Homo sapiens: one gene and its partner. The protein of the gene in region 1 purifies or fractionates together with the protein of each later gene. This does not show direct contact. Each region holds a gene or a part of one and is shown in the gene's direction. Other genes may lie near its edges.

Region 1 (3,754 bases):
ATTCCAAGCTCCAAGAGGTTGTTGAAAGACAAATTATCAGGAGATCTAGAATTCTGTTAGTGTTACCACTGACTGGAAAAAATCAGTGGTAACTTTTCTTTACTGTTCTCTGATCCTTGCTCCCAGTTCTTAAAGCTGATTTACATGATGAAGCTAGTGGTTGGCCAGGAAATAGCTTATATTTGCAGAATCCTCTTCCTTCTGCATGTCATGGTGATGGTATCAGGAAACATGAGGACTCAGTAACTATAGGGTAACTCAGTACATTTTACTTTGGGGTCTTTGTCTATTTGTTTGCAAAAAAACTGCTGAATTATTTTCTTGAGATTTGGAATTTAATACACTTTAGGGGTTTTATAATAAATTAATGAAACTGAAATCACCTTGATACAAAACAATACTGACATTTTATATCATAAAGCAACTTTTCCACATGTTTGCTATTGTAAGAAATATGTTAACCATCTTGTAAAATGCCTAATTCCTAGGGCAAGAAAAATTCTTAGCCAGAGGTATTTAGAATGTCTATTTCATTACTTGAACATTTTCTCTTTTTTTGAAAACTGGAAAATTTGGGACATATTCCCCATTACTTGAGATAATACTTATTGAGTACTTAGTGTAGGTTAGCAACTGTTCTAAGAGTTTTATGTAAATTATAACTATTTAATTCTCATAAGTTTATATATGTTTAATCCTCCTTATAATCATGAGAGTGGTGTTAATTATCCTCCCTCCAAGTTTGCAAATAAAGAGGTTGATACATATAAAGATTATAACTTGCCTAGATGGATTTGCAGAAAGATTTATTACTAGCAATTTGTTATATTATTTTGCATCTCTTTTATTGTTTACATTTTCACGCTTTAGGACAACGTCGCCCATACTCTGTGTTTGATAAGAAAAGTCAATCTTTGAGTGGTAATTGAATGGGTAAGAAACGTTTCTGAAAGTTTTCACATCCCTAAAAACATTTTGAGAATGCTTATCTGAGGCCATCCCTGAATTTTTAGCCCCAGAGCCACCAATTTGGAATTTTCTGTGTATACTTAAGTTTACCTTAAGAAATGGTCACTTCCTTTGAAGTGGAAAATCTCTTAAGATCTCCTGCTTCTCATCCATAAATCCTTTCTCAGCAGAGACTCATGGATGGGCTAGAAGCTATATTCAGTCATCTTTAGAAGCACATGGGATATTGATCAAAGGGGTGGGGTGGTGGGAAGGTGAGGGGTGGTTGAGTGTACTCCTTGGGTGTCATGGCTGGGATCTCAGTGTCCCTTCTTTTCTGCTTATTTGTACTTATTGAGAAGTCTGTCTTCCATTTTCTCCTTCCCCATGAACAAGTGTGTGAATTATTTGGAGGCAAGTTGTCTTGTTTTTAAATTTTTACTGCCCTAACTTTGACTGTGGTGCTTCACACATGTGAATGCGCTTGGGTTGAAATTTTATTCGTTTTACCATTAGTAATTATTTGAATCAAAGAAAAATCCACATAATTATTCAGTTTAACTGGCCATTTAGTTTTATAGCATTTGAAATAGAAATTGTTTTTAGTTCTAGAGACTAATTTGGCATAATTTAAAAATCTTGGTAGTTTTGGAAACTTGAACCCAATGAATTCATAAATGTTAGTTAAATTTTGAATTATGTATCTCTAACTCTTCTTGGTACCTGAAATATCCTAGTTTCTTCCGTGAGGAAAATCTCAGAATAGCACGCCATGTTATGATGTTTTAAAACGAGTGAGAATTTTGGATGTTATGAGTTCTGGTAGCTGTTTGGTAACTTAGTTTTATATTAGAAAGGTTAAGTAGCATGCCCGAGGTCATACACTGATAAACATGAGGCCAATGATTAGATATGTCTGACTTCACATTCCACATATTTCCTTACACTGTTTTGCAGTGTAAATAGGTGGTTAAGAAGATACCAAAGTAGATCTCTGGTTCATCTTCTGAGAAGCAGAACTAGAATTCTCCTGGCTAGCAGTTATCCATCTAGTGCATATGTATCTAGAGCTGGCCAGGCCTTTAGTTTACAAAATAAATAGAAAGCCTTGTCCCCACTCTGGAGGAGCTTGCTGCCTTGTTAGAAGGTGAGATATGTTCGAATAGAACATTTGGGGAAACCATTTGAGACCTGGTATAATGAAGTGCTAAGATTGTGGGCAAGGTGGGGAGGAGGTAGGCCTTCCTGACTAGTTTAGGCTACAATAGTTGGGAAGACTGCAAGAAGCCAGCAGGCTTCAGTCATGCCCTAAAAGAGCGATTGGTTTAGAAAAAAAACAAAAGGGAACTACTAACATGTATTCTATTCTAGGCAGGTGTCAGGCAAAGTTGTATCTTATTTTGGTCTCACTAGATTCTTGCAAAGCTTATCTGCATATCCAGGTTTTATAAAAGGTTAAGAAACTGAAGCTCCTAGAAGTAAATGAGCCCTTAGTTATCAAATATTGTCTGCATTGTGCAACTTCTTTTTTAGCCCGTAGTCTTTGTTTTCATACTTTAGTTTTAGAGAATTACTCCAAATTCATCATGATTGAAGACAATAAGGAGAACAAAGACCATTCCTTAGAAAGGGGAAGAGCAAGTCTCATTTTTTCCTTAAAGAATGAAGTTGGAGGACTTATAAAAGCCCTGAAAATCTTTCAGGTAAGCATTTTCTGTATTTTTGCACAGAATTCTTCTAGAAATGAATCTCTAAAACTATATTTAAAATATAGGGCAACATAGCAAGACCCTATCTCTTAAAAAAAAACAAATTTAGCTGGGTGTGGTGGTGGACTCCTGTAGTTCCAGCTACCTGGGAGGCTGGGGTGGGAGGATTGCTTCAGTCCGGGAGTCCAGGGTTACAGTGAGTGAGCTATGATCACACCACTGCACTCTAGCCTAGGTATCAGAGTGAGATTTTCTCTCTATATATATATCTATATTTATATATAGATAAAATATATAAATATATAATTTTTATATATTATATATATAAATTATTGTAAACTCTTCAGAGATGGAGTACAAACATTTGTTAAGAACTTACATTTCTAAAATAGTGCTGAATTCTAACAAGGGATACAAACAATTTACAGAAGAGGAGATACAAATAGCTACTTCGAGAAATGGGGGAGAAAAGATTCACTTTATAGATTTTAGAGAAGCAAATTTTAATTTTATTTTAATAAAATATTAAAATTTTATCAATATATAATCATATATTATTAATTATATACTTGAGATTTAATGATATAGTCATAGTATATTTAATGATATTATTTTCATGTAGCAAAGATTCTATAATGACAGTGTCTCCTATTGTCAGAACTTCATTGCATTGGAGGTACATTACCCTCCAATGCACCTTTGGCACAAGGATAAATTTGTGTACCATGTAGGGAAACTATCTGGTAATATGTATTATGAGCCTTAAAATGTTCATATTTTTGACCCATAATTCTAATTTCATAAATCTGTCTTAAAAATATGGATCAGTCAGGCAGAACACGAATATTTATTGAGTCCTTACTATGTGTCAGGTACCACACCAGACACTAAGGATGTGGAGCTGGACAAAGTAAACACAGTGCCTGTCCTCACAGAGTATGTAATCTAGTGGGGAAGGCAACATTAAACAAACAACTGCAGTAAGTGAATAATCACTATGTGTAAAGTGACATGAAACAGAAATACCAGATATTCTGACAGCATTGAACTTGGGGGACCTAACTGAGTTTAAGGGCTCAGGGACACACAAAGATTTA
Region 2 (3,754 bases), on another chromosome or scaffold:
TGTTTGAGTAGGAGTCAAGCTAACTGCTTTACTGGCTTTTAACCAGCCCTTCTCTTTTAGCGCCATCTTTCAATATTGCCTTTTGTGGTACCTGGTTTTTACAGTCCCTTTAGTGGGAATCAGCTTGCTTCTCAATAACACACCTCACCCCAACCACTGTGCCCTTTGCAGGCTTTGAGTTTTATCTTTTGGCTCTGCTAAGCAGTCATCAATCATCAGTTTCTCCTTTATGGCCTTAAAAAACTGGTTTGCATATCATACCCTGTTTGCATTTGTGTCGTCCTGGTTAATTTATCCTTTCTTAAAAAAATGTCTCAGGTTGTGGGGGTCATGTTCGTGGGTTTTAGGAATGACTGGAGTGGAGAGAGAAAGATACATATATGTACTTCGTCCACTATGTTTATTAGAATTCCTTCCATTTATTCAGCCTGCACCAGTCTGGCCTCTGACCCCACCACTTCAGGGAAACTGCTTTTTTAGGTCACCTGTCATCCTCATGTTGCCAAATCTAGCGGCCGTTCTTCCCCCCAGTAGCACTTGACACTCAATTGTTCCTTCCTTGAAACATTGTTTTTCCAAGACACCACATTCCCATGTTTCCTCCTACTTTATAATCTTCCTTAACTGGCTTCTTTTACTCTGTTGTACTTTTAACAGTAGTGTCTCTGACTTTAGTCTTCAGCCCTCTTCTGTCATTCTGTTCCTCAGGTGGTTTAATCTGCTTTGATGATTTTAAGAAACATGAGTATTGGCCGGGCGCGGTGGCTCATGCCTATAATCCGAGCACTTTGGGAGGCTGAGGCTGGCAGATCACCAGGTCAGGGGATCGAGACCATCCTGGCTAACACAGTGAAACCCCGGCTGTACTAAAAATACAAAAAATTAGCCAGGCGTGGTGGCAGGCACCTGTAATCCCAGCTACTCGGGAGGCTGAGGCAGGAGAATGGCGTGAACCCGGGAGGCGGAGCTTGCAGTGAGCCGAGATCGCGCCACTGCACTCCAGCCTGGGCAACAGAGCGAGACTCCATCTCAAAAAAAAAAAAAAAGAAGCATGACCATTCTGAAGATTCTTAAAGCTGTCTGTTTGTTTTCATCTCCACTGCTACCACTCTTGCCTAGGTCTCTCTGACCTCTGGTCTGGACTCCCACAATAGCCTCTACACTGGTCACCTAGCTTATGCTCTTGCACCCCTACAGTGCATTCCTAACATAGAAGAAACTCCTTACCAAGGCCCATAGGCCCTTTAATAATGGTGTCCTGTTCATCAGTGAAACCCATGCTCATCAGGGACCTATGCACTGATTTCCTTCTGAGACTCTTCTTGGCTCTTTGCATAGCCAGCTGCTTTTAATCCTTCATGCCTCAGCCCAATTTTCACTCTTTAAAAGAGTACTTCCCTCACAATTGTGTCTTAGTTGGTCCTCTTTGTCTCCTCAACCCCAAACATCATAATCTATAATTTTTTTCATGTATTTGTTTATTGACATCTTACTTGCTAGAATCTAAACTCTGATACATGGGGTCTTATCTGTTTTTGCCTCTAGGGTGTCTTGTCTGCATAACAGGTGCTTAATAACTATTAGTTGAACCCCCATTTCCTCATAAGTCAGATGAAAATAAAAGCACGTGCCTTACTTCACAAAGTAATTAAGGGGATAAGTTATACTGATGTACTTTAAAAACTAGGTGGTAGGGAGGCACAGTGGCTCAGTCCTGTTGTCCTGATGCATGAGGAGGTAAGGCCAGGCATTCAAGACCAGTTTGGGCAACATAGGAAGCCTTCATCTATATAACAAAAAAAAATTTTTTTTTTTAGTTTAAAAACTAGGTGGTAGTTTTCAAACTGATACAATGGAATTAAAGATAGGAAACATGAAAAGAACATAGGTGCTTAATAAATATTTGTTGAATACGCTAACATGATGGAATTAGAGATGGAAAACAAAAATAATGAAAGGGATAGGATAAAGTTTGCTCAGCCTTTTTGGAAACATTAGGTAAGTTTCCATTTTGAGTTAGTAACAGTTAATTTTGCAAGTGTAAAAAATGTCCTTTCTCTATTTATCCCTTGTAACTGTTGATGCTGTGAAAGATTAATATTGCCTGCTAAAATTAGATACTGCATTATATGCATTTGATTTTGGTGAATGTCCATATTCAGCTTGAGAGAACTGCAAAGTGTCTGAGAGATTACTTTTAGACCCAGTAGTTTAATCTCCTTGGTTTATAGATCTTTCTATTTTGGAAGATACTACTATGATCACAGGACTTCATGTTTTCTAAGGGCAAACCGGAAAACTGGTTATAAATGCTTGTTATAGAGAGGAAAGTCCATTACCAAACACTTCTGACTTAAGTAGTTAAAATCTTCTCTTGAAGCTTCTCAGTCTTGCTAAGAATGATATTAAACATAAAATCAGAAAGATTAAATATGATTCTGTCACCTACATAGCATGTTTTATCTATTTTATTAATACTTTTTACAAATACTGTTTCTCTAGTGATGGCTCATGAAGCAATGGAATATGATGTTCAGGTGCAGTTAAATCATGCCGAACAACAGCCAGCTCCTGCTGGCATGGCCAGCAGCCAAGGGGGACCAGCCCTCCTCCAGCCTGTTCCTGCTGATGTGGTCAGCAGCCAGGGGGTACCATCCATCCTCCAGCCAGCTCCTGCTGAGGTGATCAGCAGCCAAGCGACACCACCCCTGCTCCAGCCTGCTCCGCAACTGTCTGTTGACCTGACAGAAGTGGAGGTCTTGGGAGAAGACACTGTGGAGAACATCAATCCAAGAACTTCAGAACAACATAGGCAGGGATCTGATGGTAATCACACCATCCCAGCATCTTCGTTGCATTCAATGACCAACTTCATCAGCGGACTGCAGAGACTTCATGGCATGCTGGAATTCCTGAGACCTTCATCTTCAAACCACAGTGTAGGGCCAATGAGAACAAGAAGGAGGGTATCTGCTTCACGGAGGGCAAGAGCCGGAGGGTCTCAGAGGACAGACAGTGCCAGGTAAATAAATATATGGATAAGTCTGTGATCATTGCTGTACTAGAAATTATGAAACTGAGGCTCTGCCATTCAAGGACTGACAGTGTGACTTTTGGCAAGTCAGGTAACTTCTGACCCCCAGTTCCTCATAGGTGGAAATAAAAGTGCTTGCCTTACTTCACAAAGTAATGAAGGGATAAGTTAAACTGTTGTGCCTTGAAAACTAGGTGGTAGTTTGTTGGCAATCTCTGTAGAGATTGGCTGTTGTTCAGATTGTGTCTTGTACACCAAAAATTCTTTCTTCACTTGCAAGTCTCTACTCACCCAAATTCATTATTCACTGGCATTCCACCTGGGGGCACAATTAATTAATTTTCTTTCATAGTCTTGGTTTGAACTTGCCTCTTGAAGGGCTTAGCTGTCAAGTCTTGACAGGGTTATTATGAAGAATAACAATTGCCTATACCCTGTCCGTTTTTTGGTTTTTTGTTTTTGTTTTTGAGACAGCGTCTCACTCTGTCGTCCAGGCTGGATTCCCGTGGCACAATCTTTGCTCACTGCAACCTCCATCTCCCAGATTCAAGCGATTCTCCTGCCTCAGCTTCCCCAGTACCTGGCATTACAGGCGCGTGCCACCACACCTAACTAATTAAACCTGTCTGTTTTTGGTTTTGTTTTGTTTTGAGATGGAGTCTCACTCTGTCGCCCAGGCTGGAGCGCAGTGGTGCGATCTCCGCTCAGAGAGGGCTTTGT

What was found. The genes of interacting proteins can lie anywhere in the genome.
Region 2: the proteins of TPH1 (region 1) and RFWD3 purify together in Homo sapiens (affinity purification with mass spectrometry; 2 studies listed by BioGRID and IntAct, with this or other methods). This does not show direct contact.

What each region holds. Positions count from the first base shown.
Region 1 is NC_000011.10:18,039,543-18,043,296, reverse strand, and holds part of TPH1 (tryptophan 5-hydroxylase 1), read left to right. Parts: intron 1-2,508; 5' UTR 2,509-2,534; coding exon 2,535-2,651; intron 2,652-3,754. UniProt on the Homo sapiens protein: Oxidizes L-tryptophan to 5-hydroxy-l-tryptophan in the rate-determining step of serotonin biosynthesis.
Region 2 is NC_000016.10:74,660,200-74,663,953, reverse strand, and holds part of RFWD3 (E3 ubiquitin-protein ligase RFWD3), read left to right. Parts: exon of another isoform or gene 1-1,998; intron 1,999-2,500; exon of another isoform or gene 2,501-2,502; 5' UTR 2,503-2,504; coding exon 2,505-3,022; intron 3,023-3,754. UniProt on the Homo sapiens protein: E3 ubiquitin-protein ligase required for the repair of DNA interstrand cross-links (ICL) in response to DNA damage. Plays a key role in RPA-mediated DNA damage signaling and repair.